3 separate regions of the Homo sapiens genome follow, and regions 1 and 2 are each reported to be linked to region 3. The links are microRNA targets in miRTarBase. Many come from high-throughput screens and were not tested one by one. Region 3 holds a microRNA gene; each other region holds the end of a gene's coding sequence. Distances are between the middles of the regions.

Region 1 (5,073 bases), not on the chromosome of region 3:
ACGGCCACCTCGCTGCCCAGCAGCCCCGCGGCCGCCGCCTGCGCCCCCCTGGACTCCGGCGCCTCCGAGAACAGCCGCAAGCCCCCTTCGGCGTCCTCGGCCCCGGCCCTGGCGCGAGAGTGCGTGGTGTGCGCCGAGGGCGAGGTGATGGCTGCGCTGGTCCCCTGCGGCCACAACCTCTTCTGCATGGACTGCGCCGTCCGCATCTGCGGCAAGAGCGAGCCCGAGTGTCCCGCCTGCCGCACGCCGGCCACCCAGGCCATTCATATCTTTTCCTAGAGCGCGGACCACCACGTGGCCGGGGCCATCTGCGGGGGCCAGGGGTGGGCGCGGGAGACGGGGCGGGACCCGGGGTGGGAGAGGGACGGGGAGGGGGCGAGGGGCGGAGGCCGAGGGGGCAGGGGGGTGGGCGGCGGCCAGTGTTTACAGATGAGCTTTAACTGCCGCCTCAGGCGTGGAGACGGAGACCCCGCAGCCCGGCGGCGCCTCAGCCCTTCAACGACAGTATTGAGTGGTCAGGTTACAATAAACCGGAGAGAAAAGGTCCGCTTGCACTTTTTTTAGTTTTCTTATTTTTAGACACCCCTCCCCTCCAGGGTGATCTTTAAAAAAGCAAAACAAAAAACACGACTTTTCCAGCGCTCAGCGTTTTTTCCTTTCGTCCGAAGCCGTTTTCTGATTTGACTTTTCTCGCCGGCCGGTCTCAGGCCGCACAGACGTTCCAGAGGAGGAGGGTGACATTTTTACTCCCTTTTTGGGGCTAACCATTTATGCTTTTGTACATCAACCGTGCGCGGCCGGAGGGGGCAGGGGGGCGGGGGCGAGGGGCGTTCCAATCAAATTTCTAACTTTCTGTTAATTATTAATCCCCTTTTTACTGCGGTTTCTGTTGTCATTTTTAAAATTTTTTTAATTTTTTTTTTTTTTTACTTTTACTTTTTACCTCTTGTGTATATGTAGGGAATTTATAGGGAAATATGTACTTTATGGAATAAATTTTAAGAACTAAAATATATTTTATTTTAAATAAAGTAATGGACCTTTAATCTTACACAGCTAAATTACTGATTATATATTTGCTGAGCTGATTTAAGGGTTAAAAAAATTGTATCAAGAGTTTTATTTTTTGACTTCAAAGCCTTCTTAATAAAGCCTCTTTTCTACATGTGAGCACACGGCTTCAGCGTGGTGTGGGGGATGGGCACCAGGAGGGGAGACCCCGGGGCAGGGGACACCCGGATCCAGCCCCTCAACCCCCCAGTTCCGTGGTCCAGGCCCTCACCCCGACCAGGCACTGTCCCTTGTTCCAGACGAAGGAATTGGGTCTGTGGGGGAGGGTCTAGCTGGGCTCCCCGTGAGCAAACCTCAGGTCCTCCCCATCCCTGTGGGTGTTCAACCATGGATCCCACAGAGAAAGGGGACCCAGGCTGTCCTTCCTCAGGGACATCTGCCCAGCTCTCTGGGTGTGTGGGATCCATCCCAACAGACCGTCCAGCGGTCGTGCAGATGGGGAAACTGAGGCCTGGAAATGCCCGTCCCAGGTTTGACCCCGATGCATCCTGGTCTGTGAAGGACGTTTGAGCCGTGGTCATCCCCCCACTGCTCTGGGAGCCATGACAGACACATGGGGCCACCAGATATAGCTCTTCAGGGCTGGGGTTGAGACCACAGGCTCGCCGGGTGCAGTGGCTCTCGCCTGTAATCCCAGCACTTTGGGAGGCCGAGGCAGGTGGATCAGGAGGTCAGGAGATCGAGACCATCCTGGCTAACACGGTGAAACCGCGTCTCTACTAAAAGTACAAAAAAAATTAGCCGGGCGTGGTGGTGGGCGCCTGTGGTCCCAGCTACTTGGGAGGCTGAGGCAGGAGAATGGCGTGAACCCGGGAGACGGAGCTTGTAGTGAGCCGAGATTGCACCACTGCACTCCAGCCTGGGTGACAGAGTGAGACTCCGTCTCAAAAAAAAAAAAAAAAGAAAAAAAAAAAAAGACCACAGGCTGGACCCATGGTGAGCTGTCCCAGCGCGCCATCCCAAAACAGCCAGGAAGCCCCTGGGTGTCAGGATGGGCCACTCCGGGGACAAGGAAGGGGCCGGGCACACAGGCTGCAGGCTTGGGGAGTGGACCTTGGGGAGGGGCCTGGGACTTAGAACCCACCAGGGAAAGAGAAGCACGTGTGGAAGAGAGGCCTGGAGAGCTTCCAGGAGGAGGCGAGGAGGAGAGAGGAACCACCAGAGACGCACACCTGAGTTCAAGCCCAGCCCTACCCAGGCCCCTGGCCTGGAACTCCCTCCTCCGCAAAACGCAGGGTGTTCGAGGCCCAAACTCCCTCTCGGTGAGACTGAGGGGCGTGTCATTGGTTGAATGGAGTCCCCCCACCAAAATAAGGAGTCCCCCAGAAAGTGAGAATGTGATTTTATTTGGGAAAAGGTCTTTGCAGATATAATTAAGGATCTCAAGATGAAATCATCCTGAATTAGAGCAAGCCTTAAATCTAATAATGAGTGTTTTTTGTTTTTTTTTTTTTTTCTGTTTGGTTTTGTTTTGTTTTTGAGGCGGAGTCTTGCTCTGTCGCCCAGGCTGGAGTGCAGTGGCGCCATCTCGGCTCACTGCAAGCTCCGCCTCCCGGGTTCACGCCATTCTCCTGCCTCAGCCTCCCGAGTAGCTGGGCCTATAGGTGCCTGCCGCCACGCCCGGCTAATTTTTTGTATTTTTAGTAGAGACGGTGTTTCACCGTGTTAGCCAGGATGGTCTCGATCTCCTGACCTCGTGATCTGTCCGCCTCGGCCTCCCAAAGTGCTGGGATTACAGGCGTGAGCCACTGCACCCGGCCATGAGTGTTTTTATAAGAGAGGGAGAGGGGCCGGGAGCGGTGGTTCACGCCTGTAATCCTAGCACTTTGGGAGGCCAAGGTGGGTGGATCACGAGGTCAGGAGATCATAGACCATCGTGGCTAACACGGTGAAACCCCGTCTCTACCAAAAATACAAAAAATTAGCCGGGCGTGATCTCGACTCACTGCAACCTCCACCTGCCAGGTTCCAGAGATTCTCCTGCCTCAGCCTCCTGAGTAGCTGGGATTACAGGTGCCCACCACCACACCCGGCTAATTTTTGTGTTTTTAGTAGAGATGGGGTTTCACCAAGTTGTCCAGGATGATCTCAATCTCTTGGCTTCGTGATCCACCTGCCTTGGCCTCCCAAAGTGCTGGGATTACAGGTGTGAGCCACCACGCCCAGCCGGGAGGGACTGTTAACCTGGGTCTGGCCACAGCTGTGCGGAGCGGCTGGGTTCGGCTGCAGGCCACACACCCTGTGACCTGGGCTGACTTCGTGCCTCAGCCAGACTGCAGAAGGCCGCAGGGAGGGGCGGGTGTGCGGATGCCCCCCTCCCCTCTCTGCAATTGGGTCATGGAGAGAATGAGAGCAGCCCCCAAGGGGTCGAGGGATCAAAGATGGGACAAATGTCAAAGGGGTGGAGGAGAGTCTTTTGGAAGGATATGAGGGTTCCTGCAGCCCCCGGGTTCCGATAGAGTGGGCAGAAGGGGATGATTTTGTCTGGTGCTGCAAGGATTCAGGGGGTGTCATGGAGCAGCTCTGCTTCCGGGGAGCCCCAAGTGGGGTCAGTTTGTCACCTAACTGCAGGGGAGGCTGGGGAGAGGAGAGGCACCTCCACACTGGGAGGAAGCTGGACGTGGTGGCACACACCTGTAGTCTCAGCTGCTCGGGAGGCTGAGGTGGAAGGATCACTTGAGCAAAGTGAGGTTGAGGCTGCAGTGAGCCGAGATTACACCACTGCACTCCAGCCTGTGTGACAGAGCAAGACTCTGTCAACAACAACGACGAAAAAAAAAAAAAAATTGGGAGAAGAGAGGACATGACAGAGCTAGGCGCAAAGACCCTGGGAGGTGGGGTGGGGAATTGCCCGGCGGAAGGGAATGGCAAAGCTTGGGGAGGCTGCTGGGTGACCCGCCAGGGCAGGGCCCAAGTCTAGACTGGCCAGGACCTGCTCTAGGCGTTTCTGATGTAGTGATATAGAGGAGCTGAGGCCCCCCAGCCAGGGGCCAGGGGTGTCACCATGCTGGTCCCAGGACTTCCGGAGACATCCGAGGGATGAGCTCACTCCCACTGCAGGGTTGCTCAGCTGGCACATGAGAGTCTGAAGTGTCTGTGGCCTTTGGGCACAGCACAAGAGATGGCCAGAGATGGATTCTGTTTTTGTTTTTTTAAGAGACAAGGTCTTGCTCTGTTGCCCTGTCTGGAGTGTGGTGGTGCAATCATAACTCACAGCAGCCTTGACCTCCTGGACTGCAACGATCTTCCCACCTCAGCCTCCCTAGTAGTTGGGACCACAGGCACATACCATCATGCCTAGCTAATTTTTTGTATATTTTTAAATTTTTGTATATTTTGTAGAGACGGGGATTCTTCATGTTGCCCAAGCAGGTCTCGAATTCCTGGCCTCAAGTGATCCGCCCGCCCCAGCCTCCCACAGTGCTGGGGTTACAGGCATGAGACACTGCATCCGGTCCAGTCTGGATTCTTAAAGTTGCTGCACGAGGCCCTGGATCCAGCTGTGCCTGAAAGCCAACTTTTCCATGCCAACCTTTCCATCATCAGAGCTAATAGCAGTTGGAACAACTGAAACTCTAACCACCTACAGGGACCACATTTCTGACCAAGGAGCTGGAAGAATTTTCTAGAGGGGCTGGGCAGCAATGGCAAAGCAAGGATCCCATGCATTGGCCTCTCCATGTCTCGGCACAGCTCAGGGAAGCCAAGGGCTGAGGCCTGGCCTGTGTCCTGGGCACAAAGTCTCATTGCTATTGTCATTCACCTCCTTTGACTCATGGACTTGGCATGGTGGGGTGACCCTAGTCCAATGTCTGCTGAAAATCCCCTGTTCCAGGTCTCATCAGACACGGGGGACACTGAGGGGCAGGGCTGTGGTTCTCCCATCTGTAGGCTCCACGTGGGAAGGATACACCACCCACACATTTTGTGTCCCTTGGTGGGAAGAACGCACCATCCACACACCGTGTGTCCCTTGGGATGTCCCCAGGGTAGAGACCGTGC
Region 2 (5,073 bases), 11 Mb from region 3:
TCCTTGCCCCCAGGGGTGATACCTCGGGGGTTCTCCAGGCTGAGGCACCTGCAGGGCATAGGAAGGATGCAGGGCTTATGGTCTAGAGGAGGCAGAGGGAACTCTGGGCCCTGATGGTCTCCCCCTCCCTGCACACCCAGGGAGCAGAGGGAAGGTTCCCTGCAGGTGGGCAATGAGGCCCCTGTGACCGGCTCCTCCCCGCTGGGCGCCACGCAGCTGGACACTGATGGAGCCCTGTGGCTTGGTGAGTGTTTTGGGGAGACTAGAGAGGGATGCCCAAGGGTCTCATGATATCCGAGGGACAGACTCCACCCCCCAGCGCCCACCCTTGAGTCAGGGTGCATGTGAGCCGGCGGGCTGGGCTCTCTTCTCCCGCTGTAGCCCCTGCAGTTCCCAGTGCTGTGGGGCCGGGAGGCGGGTGCCCAGGTGTGGGCCCCCTGCTGGTCACCTGCTCGTTGGGGTGCCCATCAGCATCACTGAGTCACAGCCGGGTGACTCCCACTGTCTGTGCTGCAGGGGGCCTGCCGGAGCTGCCCGTGGGCCCAGCACTGCCCAAGGCCTACGGCACAGGCTTTGTGGGCTGCTTGCGGGACGTGGTGGTGGGCCGGCACCCGCTGCACCTGCTGGAGGACGCCGTCACCAAGCCAGAGCTGCGGCCCTGCCCCACCCCATGAGCTGGCACCAGAGCCCCGCGCCCGCTGTAATTATTTTCTATTTTTGTAAACTTGTTGCTTTTTGATATGATTTTCTTGCCTGAGTGTTGGCCGGAGGGACTGCTGGCCCGGCCTCCCTTCCGTCCAGGCAGCCGTGCTGCAGACAGACCTAGTGCCGAGGGATGGACAGGCGAGGTGGCAGCGTGGAGGGCTCGGCGTGGATGGCAGCCTCAGGACACACACCCCTGCCTCAAGGTGCTGAGCCCCCGCCTTGCACTGCGCCTGCCCCACGGTGTCCCCGCCGGGAAGCAGCCCCGGCTCCTGAATCACCCTCGCTCCGTCAGGCGGGACTCGTGTCCCAGAGAGGAAGGGGCTGCTGAGGTCTGATGGGGCCCTTCCTCCGGGTGACCCCACAGGGCCTTTCCAAGCCCCCATTTGAGCTGCTCCTTCCTGTGTGTGCTCTGGGCCCTGCCTCGGCCTCCTGCGCCAATACTGTGACTTCCAAACAATGTTACTGCTGGGCACAGCTCTGCGTTGCTCCCGTGCTGCCTGCGCCAGCCCCAGGCTGCTGAGGAGCAGAGGCCAGACCAGGGCCGATCTGGGTGTCCTGACCCTCAGCTGGCCCTGCCCAGCCACCCTGGACGTGACCGTATCCCTCTGCCACACCCCAGGCCCTGCGAGGGGCTATCGAGAGGAGCTCACTGTGGGATGGGGTTGACCTCTGCCGCCTGCCTGGGTATCTGGGCCTGGCCATGGCTGTGTTCTTCATGTGTTGATTTTATTTGACCCCTGGAGTGGTGGGTCTCATCTTTCCCATCTCGCCTGAGAGCGGCTGAGGGCTGCCTCACTGCAAATCCTCCCCACAGCGTCAGTGAAAGTCGTCCTTGTCTCAGAATGACCAGGGGCCAGCCAGTGTCTGACCAAGGTCAAGGGGCAGGTGCAGAGGTGGCAGGGATGGCTCCGAAGCCAGAAATGCCTTAAACTGCAACGTCCCGTCCCTTCCCCACCCCCATCCCATCCCCACCCCCAGCCCCAGCCCAGTCCTCCTAGGAGCAGGACCCGATGAAGCGGGCGGCGGTGGGGCTGGGTGCCGTGTTACTAACTCTAGTATGTTTCTGTGTCAATCGCTGTGAAATAAAGTCTGAAAACTTTAAAAGCATTGCTTTTGTCCATCCTCACCAGCGCGCTGGCCCGTTGGCTTCTTGCTCCGCTTTGTGGTGGGAGCACGGACTTGGAGCTCCCTTGGGTGGCCCTGGATGGAGCCAGGCCCTGCACAGGGATCCTTGTGGCTGATGAGGCCCTGAGTGGGGAGCACACACTGCTGAGCACTGTGGGAGGCGGGGCCGTGGAGGCAGGAGGCTCTCTGGCGTGCACGTGTGGGTGCGTGTACGTGTGGGGGTGTGTGTGTGTGGGTGCGGGTACGTGTGGGTGCATGTGCCTGCTCTCTGGCGTGCACGTGTGGGTGCGGGTACGTGTGGGTGCGGGTACGTGTGGGTGCATGTGCGTGTGGGTGCGTGTGCCTGCTCTCTGGCGTGCACGTGTGGGTACGTGTGGGTGTGGGTGCGTGTGCCTGCTCTCCGGCGTGCATGTATGGGTGCATGTACGTGTGTGTGGGTGCGTGTGCCTGCTCTCCGGCGTGTATGTGTGGGTGCGTGTGCGTGTGGGTGCGTGTGCTTGCTCTCCGGCGTGCATGTGTGGGTGCATGTACGTGTGTGGGTGCGTGTGCCTGCTCTCCGGCGTGTATGTGTGGGTGTGTGTGCCTGCTCTCTGGCGTGCACGTGTGTGTGTGTGTGTGTGTGCCTGCACACATAATTGGCCCACATCTGTGTCAGAGCACAGGGTTGGGAGGAGGCTGCACCCAGGACTGGAAGGGTCTGGGGGGAGCCAGGGTGCGTGGGGCTGTTGGGCAGCCTTTTCACTGGCCCAGGTGTGCAGAACCAACCCTTGGCACTGCTGGAAGCCCCTAACTAGAAACCCCTGGGGTAGCTGGGCTCCTGGACTCCCTCTAACCTGCTTCCTAAATTAGTGTGTGGGTGACAGCACTGCAGAAGCTGAGCCTCAGGGAAGGGCGCGGTGGCTCACACCTGTCATCCCAGCACTTTGGGAGGCTGAGGCTGGAGGATCGCTTGAGGCCAAGAGTGGGAGATCAGCTTGGGCAACATAGTGAGACCCCATCTCTGCAAAAAAATTTCTTTAATTAGCCAGGCGTGGTGGTACACACCTGTAGCTCCAGCTACTCCGGAGGCTGAGGCAGGAGGATCACTTGAATCCAGGAGGTTGAGGCAGCAGCAAGCTGTGATTGCACCACTGCACTCCAGCCTGGGTGACAGAGCGAGAACCTGTCTAAAAAACAGAGCTGGCACCCAGCACCGGCAGATGTGAGCCCTGGGGAGAAGCAGGGGAAGAAGGGGTAGGGTGTGTGGCCAGCTGGGTGGCCCTTCGCAAACTGCTGTCTCTTATGAAAAATAACTAAGTGTAGTTTTCTATTTTGTATTAATGATTTTAAAAAAAAAGCCAGGTGCGCTGGCTCACACCTGTAATCCTAGCACTTTGGGAGGCCGAGGCGGGTGGATCACCTGAGGTCAGGAGTTCAAGACGAGCCTGGCCAACATGGTGAAACCCTGTCTCTCCTAAAATACAAAAACTGGCTGGGCATGATGGTGGGTGCCTGTAGTCCCAGCTACTCCGGAGGCTGAGACGGGAGAATTGCTTGAACCCAGGAGACGGTGGTTGCAGTGAGCCGAGATCACGCCATTGCACTCCAGCCTCAGTGGCTGAAGGAGACTCCGTCTCAAAAAAAAAAAGAAAAAAGAAAACCACAAAAACATCGAAATAAAATAACACCAATGGCTGGGCACATTGGCTCATGCCTATAATCCCAGCACTTTGGGAGGCTGAGGCAGGCGGATCACCTGAGGTCAGGAGTTCAACACCAGACTGGCCAACATGGTGAAACCCTGTATCTACTAAAAACACAAACATCTGGGCGTGGTGGCAGGTATCTGTAATCCCAGTTACTCGGGAGGCTGAGGCACGAGAATCGCTTGAACCCGGGAGGCGGAGGTTGCAGTGAGCCGCGATTGCACCACTGCACTCCAGCGTGGGCGACAGAGCGCGACTCCGTTTCAAAAAAAAAATGAAAAGATAATACCCACAAGCTCCACACCCAGGAGGTCCCATGCGTCTGAGTGTTTGCTTTCTGGGCTTTTCATCACCTGGTCCTCTGGGGATATGCTGACCGACCCTGTGTGCCTGGCAGGTGTCAGGCACTGGGGGTCGGGGAGGAGAGAGTCCAGGAGCGGTGGCCACACACAGGTCGCTGACGGTGGGGGGCCAGGGTGGGGGCAGACTAACTTTGGTTTTCAGGAAAGGTCCAGAGAAAACACGCCCAAACCCAGACCCGAAGCATGAGCAGGGGGAGGGCAGGTGAGGAGGCCAGAGGCGGGGCATGTGGTGTGGGTCCATTGGACGGTGTGCAGGGCCCTGTGGCTTGACAAAGGGATCTTTCAGCAGGAAGCGGAGGCGTAGGAGCGGCCAGAGGCCAGCGTGCAGGACAGAGGCCACAGGTCAGAGCAGCAGAGGCTGGACAGAGATGGGCAGGGCAGGTCCAGTGGGGCTGCGTGGGCCTGGGGAAGAGAGCTGGGGGTGCTGCCTGAGGAGCTGTGGGAGGCTCCTGGAGGGCTCCAAGCAGGAGGCCACCAGATTTCATGAAGACGCCCCTGGCTAGGACAGGGTGCTAGGCTGCAGGGGGAGCAGAGGGAGGGATTTGGGGGAGAATGGGCGGGTCGAGGGGGGTGAGAAGAGGCGCTCAGGGACGTGGAGATGGAGCTGGAGGCACCGGAGCTTTGGGTGGATTCGCCCTGATGCGTCTGGAGGGATGGCTGGGCTGGGGAAGCTGGGGTTCCCTGAGTGGGGTCCAGGGGGCCGAGGGGTGCCAGGCAGGGAGAGGCTGGGCTGAAGCCTGAGGCAGGTGCTCCTGCTGGGTGTTGCCTAGGAGAGGAGAAAAAGCCCCGACGCCAGAAATGGAGGAGGGAGGAGGACCTCGGAGGGGAGGAGGAGGGTGCGCAGAACCAGGAGAGGCAGTTTGGGGAGCAACCGCTGCGGAGCGCGCAGGACCCAGAGGACTCAAAGGGGACCTGGAGGGTGACGAGGCCTTCCGTGGCCGGGGGTGAGGAGGAGGGAAGCCGCGCGGGCGGAGAGGCGCTGGTGGGTCCCAGGTTGGAGGCTGTGGGTCTGAGAGGCGAAGCCCAGGGGAGCCCGGGGCCACCGCTGAAAAGGATGGCAGCTGAGCGCAGGCGAGGGAGAGGCGCGCGTGTCCGGGACAGACCGCGGTGGGAGCTCGACTCCGGAAACCGGCGGGCCTGGGGCTGGGACCTACAGGGAGGCGGACGCGGCACAGCCAGGGAGGTCGGTCCCGCGG
Region 3 (5,000 bases):
GAGATTGAGGGTCTAGAGATGACAAGGCTGCCACCTCTGCTGTCTGCATCACATGAGTGTGTGTGTACACATGTGTGTGCATACATACCCACAGGGGGTGGAAGGACAAGCAAGTAACCATTCCAGAACAATGAGATGACTGTTAGAGGGGTCATAACCCACGTTTAGAGAGAGCCGAGAGGAGGAGGAGGAGGAGCTTGAATTAGCCTTGGGTAGTCAGGGAGGGCTTCCCAGAGGTGGCAGCACTCATCTTGAAAGACAAAGGGATGTTTCAGGTGCAGGAGGGAAGGAGAGGTATCTTCCTTCCTCAGCAGAGGGCAGCTTTGTGCTGAGAACCCCCGTTCTCTGTGACCAAGGCCACTGTCTTCTGGATATCTGTCCCATGCAGTGTTAGGGGTCACCCAGCACTGGAGAAGGCCAGCAGAGTCAGTGCTTCTGCCTGCAGACATGACTAGGGTACACTGAGGTGGGGAGGCAGGGGAGGTAAAAGAAGGCACGAGCTCTCCTTCCTGTACCCTGCTCCAGGGGGAGAAACCTCCCCAGCCATCATCAGTGCAGACTGGCAGGGGGAGGGCCAAACATTTGCAGGGCGGGGACCTGGGCATCAGGCATGGCAGAACCCAGGGGCGGCCCTGTTGATGGCAGTCTTCCCTTCTTCCTTCCAGGTGGCATTTACACCCTACGCCCCGGAGCCCGGGAGCACATGCCGGCTCAGAGAATACTATGACCAGACAGCTCAGATGTGCTGCAGCAAATGCTCGCCGGGTGAGGGCAGCCACGGGGGCACTCGGGGCCCATGCCCTGGAGGAGCGTGTGTGTACAGGGGCTGGGGCGCAAGAGCATAGCCCTTGATTCTTACTGAACTCCTAGTTCTATGCACTGGCCCATGCTCCCTGCTGCTTCTGGGCCTGTGAACATGCTGTTCCCTCTTCCTGGCACACTTCCCAACTCCCTTTCCCTGATTAACTCCAACTTGCCCTTTAGACCTCAGCTGAAGATGTCCCCTCTTCCAGGAAGGCTGCCTGCCCCATACTGCCCAGCCGGTGGAGGAGGGGGAGGAGGAGCCTAAATTAGCTCCTGGGGGAGTCAGGGAGGGCTGCCTGGAGGAGGCAGCACTCAGCTTGAAAGACAAGTGCTGCCTCCTTTGAGCTCTCACTGGCCTCTGATGTTCCCATGGAAGCTCTTTCCTTGCTGTGGGATTATAGCCCGGTCCTGCTTCCTGTTGCCTCCACTGTGTGCTCCTCTAGGGCAGAGATTGTGGCTTGTTTTCTGCTGAATCCCCAGCACGTGGCGCAATGCCATGTAGGTGCTCAGTGCATATTTGACTGACTCTGTGAATGCTTACCCATTTCACAGATGGTAGACCTGAGGCCCAGCCACAGTTGGTGGAGCTAGGTAGCCTGACTCCTGGTGCCCTCCATCTATTCATTTGTGTCTGTATTCATTCATGTCATGATTATAAGGTATCTGCTGTGTGTTCTAAGTGCTGGGAATACACAGAGAGCAGGGCAGACAAAACCCTTGCCCTCGTGGAGTCTGCATTTTAACGGTGGATGCAGACAGATACATTAGGAGATGTGTGGTCCTGTCTATCTGTAAGTGCTGTAGAAAGACAAGGTCAGGTAAGGCGGGGGAGACAGAACGGGACATACTGTTTTACACAGGGTGGTCTGGGAAGGTCTCTCTGAGGAGGTGACATTTGGGCAGAGCCCTGCAGGAGGTGAGGGAGCAGGTCATGCATGTATACAGGGAACAGTGTGCCAGGAGGAAGCAACAGCATGTGCGAAGGCCTTGAAGTCGGAGCCTGTTTGGTGAGTTGGAGGAACAGCAGGGCCAGCATGTGTGGCCCAGGATGAGCGAAGGCGAGTACGGTAGGGGAGGAGGAGGAAGGAGTGAGCAGGGACCATGGTAAGGAGTTTAGATTTTATTCTGTCTGGGAGCCAATGGAGGGCTTTGAGCCGTTACCTTGAGATGTAGGTGGGCATATGAGTACCTGTCACCGTCCCTAGCCATTTTAAGACATCCTAGGGAAAGTGACTCTCTTCTTTCTTTTATTAACTGGAAGGGTCTCTTTAAGAAGTTACTAGAGAGGCTGAGGTGGGCGGACCACCGGAGGCCAGGAGTTTGAGACCAGCCTGGCCAACATGGTGGAACCCGTCTCTACTAAGAATACAAAAAAATAGCTGGGCATAATGGCAGGCACCTGTAATCCCAGCTACTTGGGAGGCTGAGGCAGGAGAATTGCTTGAGCCTGAGAGGCAGAGGTTGCAGTGAGCCGAGATTGTGCCACTGCACTCTAGCCTGGGCCACAGAGTGAGATTCTGTCTCAAAAAAAAAAAAAAAAAAAAAAGCAGCTACTGAGTCAACTTTTTTTTAAGGTTTCCGTTGGTGTTCTCTGTCCCTGGAATGCCTGCTTTCCAGGCCCATGCCCTTGTCCTTGATAGGATACCAGGGACTACATTCTTACTACCTGTTCCCCCTATCATTCATGCCCCTAGCTGGAGAATATTAGCCATCTATCAAGAAGGAAGAAACTGGCAAGCTAGTTCTTACTAAAGTGTGATTGACTGATAATAGGGCTCCAGTGGTGGAGGTTCAAGCATCTGGAAAGAGCAGAGAGGAATCTATTTTTGAGCAGAAGGGGTTCAGAAATGACGTGATAGCTGGTACAATACTAGATGGGAGATGATTCTGAGGAATTGGAACTCCACAGAATAGCCTTCCCAGCTGGGCTTTAGAACTCTGGACTTTGTGGGGACAGTGGATGAGCCCAGGGTCCTGGCAGAAGGCTCGCCCAGCTGAGACCTCTGGCCCTTGTTTCCTCAGGCCAACATGCAAAAGTCTTCTGTACCAAGACCTCGGACACCGTGTGTGACTCCTGTGAGGACAGCACATACACCCAGCTCTGGAACTGGGTTCCCGAGTGCTTGAGCTGTGGCTCCCGCTGTAGCTCTGGTGAGTAGGTTCAGAGAAAAAGGGGGCCCTTACACCCCTGCCTCCAACTTCCCCCGGCAACTCCAGCCTCTTTGGCTTCCAGCTGTCTGGAGTTACCCCAGGCTGGTTGTTGGAAGTGGCACAGGTGCAGCTGTTTACCCCTACCACTGGCATTTTCCTCCTCTGTCTCACCAAAGCCTCTTCACAGCCCCACGGGGCAGGCGGTGGGAGAACTGTGCCCACGTGAGGGTTGAGGAGGTGGTGCGTGGGAGAGTGGTGCGCATGCTCGTGCTGCGAGGAGCAGGACTGCGGGGAGGAGCGAAACTGCTGGGAAGAGCGGGACTGCGGGGAAGAGCGGGACTTCGGGGAGGAGCGGCACTGCGGGGAGGAGCAGGACTGCAGGGAGGAGCGGGACTGTGGGGAGGAGCGGGACTTCGGGGAGGAGCGGGACTGCGGGGGACGAGCGCGACTGCGGGGGACGAGCAGGACTGCGGAGAGTAGCGGGACTGCGGAGAGTAGCGGGACTGCGGAGAGTAGCAGGACTGCCGGTCCTGCCCCTGGACTCTGGCCGGTGTTGTGTGTGCCCCATGCTGAGGCGGTCCGCCAGCCTCCTGGAGATCCGCTGTCTGAGAGTGCTGGGCTGTCTGGGAGGGCAGCGTGGGTGTGGCGGAGGCAGGCGTGACCGTTTGCCGCCCTCTCGCTGCTCTAGACCAGGTGGAAACTCAAGCCTGCACTCGGGAACAGAACCGCATCTGCACCTGCAGGCCCGGCTGGTACTGCGCGCTGAGCAAGCAGGAGGGGTGCCGGCTGTGCGCGCCGCTGCGCAAGTGCCGCCCGGGCTTCGGCGTGGCCAGACCAGGTACGGGGTGGGGCTCAGGTCCTTGGGGACGCCCATGGGCCTCTCCTTTGTAGACATCCTTGCAGTGTCACGGGCATCAACCCATTAATTAGTCCAGCAGGGAGCACTGTTAGTGGTGGCCAGGTGCCTGCTACCCATCCGTCTGTCCACCTGTCCACCGTTCATTCTTCCTGCCAGCACTCCCGATTAGGCACCTCTTATGTACTGGAACCAGGAGACCCAGAGATGGATCAGACCAAGCCCTAAGCTAGGAAAGTTATGTGATGCTGCAAGATGAACTCACATAACTCTACAGCCCAATCCCGTGCATGTGTGTACAGGAATCTGTGTGTGTGCATGTGTGTACAGGCATCTGTGTGTGTGTGTGTGTGTGTGTGTGTGTGTAAGGGGTGGAGGTGCAGACAGAGCTCCTTGGGCCCCTCAGACCTCTCCTAGGGCTCTAGTGCCAAGGCCCAGCTGTCCCGCAGAGTGTCTGAGTGGTTGACAAGTTCGGATTGTTCCCTGAAGGAACTGAAACATCAGACGTGGTGTGCAAGCCCTGTGCCCCGGGGACGTTCTCCAACACGACTTCATCCACGGATATTTGCAGGCCCCACCAGATGTGAGTAGCTGAGTCCTTTGGTTCTGGAGGAGCAGGGAGGGGCTGTCCCTGGGTGACTGTGGGTCCAGGACACAGAGCAGCTCACCAACCACCATTGTCCAGACTGCTTTATCTGAGGGTGGCTCCCAGGATAAATGGCATGGTGGGCAGGACCTTGCCCTGGAAGGCAGGACTGGGTGGGTGCATGGGGAGGTGGGGGAGGGCTAGGAGGGGGTGGTCCTCAGAGAGGGCACACATCGTCACTCTCCTATCCTGCCTGCTGGGGCCCGTGAATGAGCCCAGCCACCCCAGCCACTCTGTCCCCTGCTGCCTCCTGACCAAGCCTCCTCCTCCTCCAGCTGTAACGTGGTGGCCATCCCTGGGAATGCAAGCATGGATGCAGTCTGCACGTCCACGTCCCCCACCCGGAGTATGGCCCCAGGGGCAGTACACTTACCCCAGCCAGTGTCCACACGATCCCAACACACGCAGCCAACTCCAGAACCCAGCACTGCTCCAAGCACCTCCTTCCTGCTCCCAATGGGCCCCAGCCCCCCAGCTGAAGGGAGCACTGGCGACTTCGCTCTTCCAGTTGGTAAGTCGCAAGAAGTCTCATTCATTCACTCC

Evidence for each region. The annotated mature microRNA hsa-miR-4632-3p reads UGCCGCCCUCUCGCUGCUCUAG and lies in region 3 at 3,622-3,643, shown strand. An mRNA with a match to its seed (bases 2 to 7 or 8) in the 3' UTR can be bound and repressed. Matches are read on the target gene's strand: a 7mer-m8 pairs with bases 2 to 8, a 7mer-A1 pairs with bases 2 to 7 and ends in A, and an 8mer does both.
Region 1: miRTarBase lists MEX3D as a target of hsa-miR-4632-3p. Seed matches in the 3' UTR shown: 7mer-m8 at 408-414.
Region 2: the mRNA of AGRN is a reported target of hsa-miR-4632-3p. Seed matches in the 3' UTR shown: 7mer-m8 at 1,723-1,729.

Annotation. Positions count from the first base shown.
Region 1 is chr19:1,550,769-1,555,841 of GRCh38, reverse strand. MEX3D (mex-3 RNA binding family member D) reads left to right here. Exons shown (of 2, transcript NM_203304.4): 2 at 1-1,170. The coding sequence ends at 279. Among named protein-coding and RNA genes, the nearest start is that of MEX3D, 15 kb to the left of the region's middle.
Region 2 is chr1:1,054,308-1,059,380 of GRCh38, forward strand. AGRN (agrin) reads left to right here. Exons shown (of 36, transcript NM_198576.4): 35 at 141-244; 36 at 517-1,809. The coding sequence ends at 674. Among named protein-coding and RNA genes, the nearest start is that of RNF223, 17 kb to the right of the region's middle. RefSeq lists silencers at 128-310, 5,005-5,073 and an enhancer at 4,418-5,073.
Region 3 is chr1:12,188,131-12,193,130 of GRCh38, forward strand. MIR4632 (microRNA 4632) reads left to right here and starts at 3,583; the gene lies at 3,583-3,643. TNFRSF1B (TNF receptor superfamily member 1B) reads left to right here. Exons shown (of 10, transcript NM_001066.3): 2 at 666-765; 3 at 2,827-2,955; 4 at 3,644-3,793; 5 at 4,301-4,394; 6 at 4,733-4,968. RefSeq lists enhancers at 704-1,241, 3,588-4,139.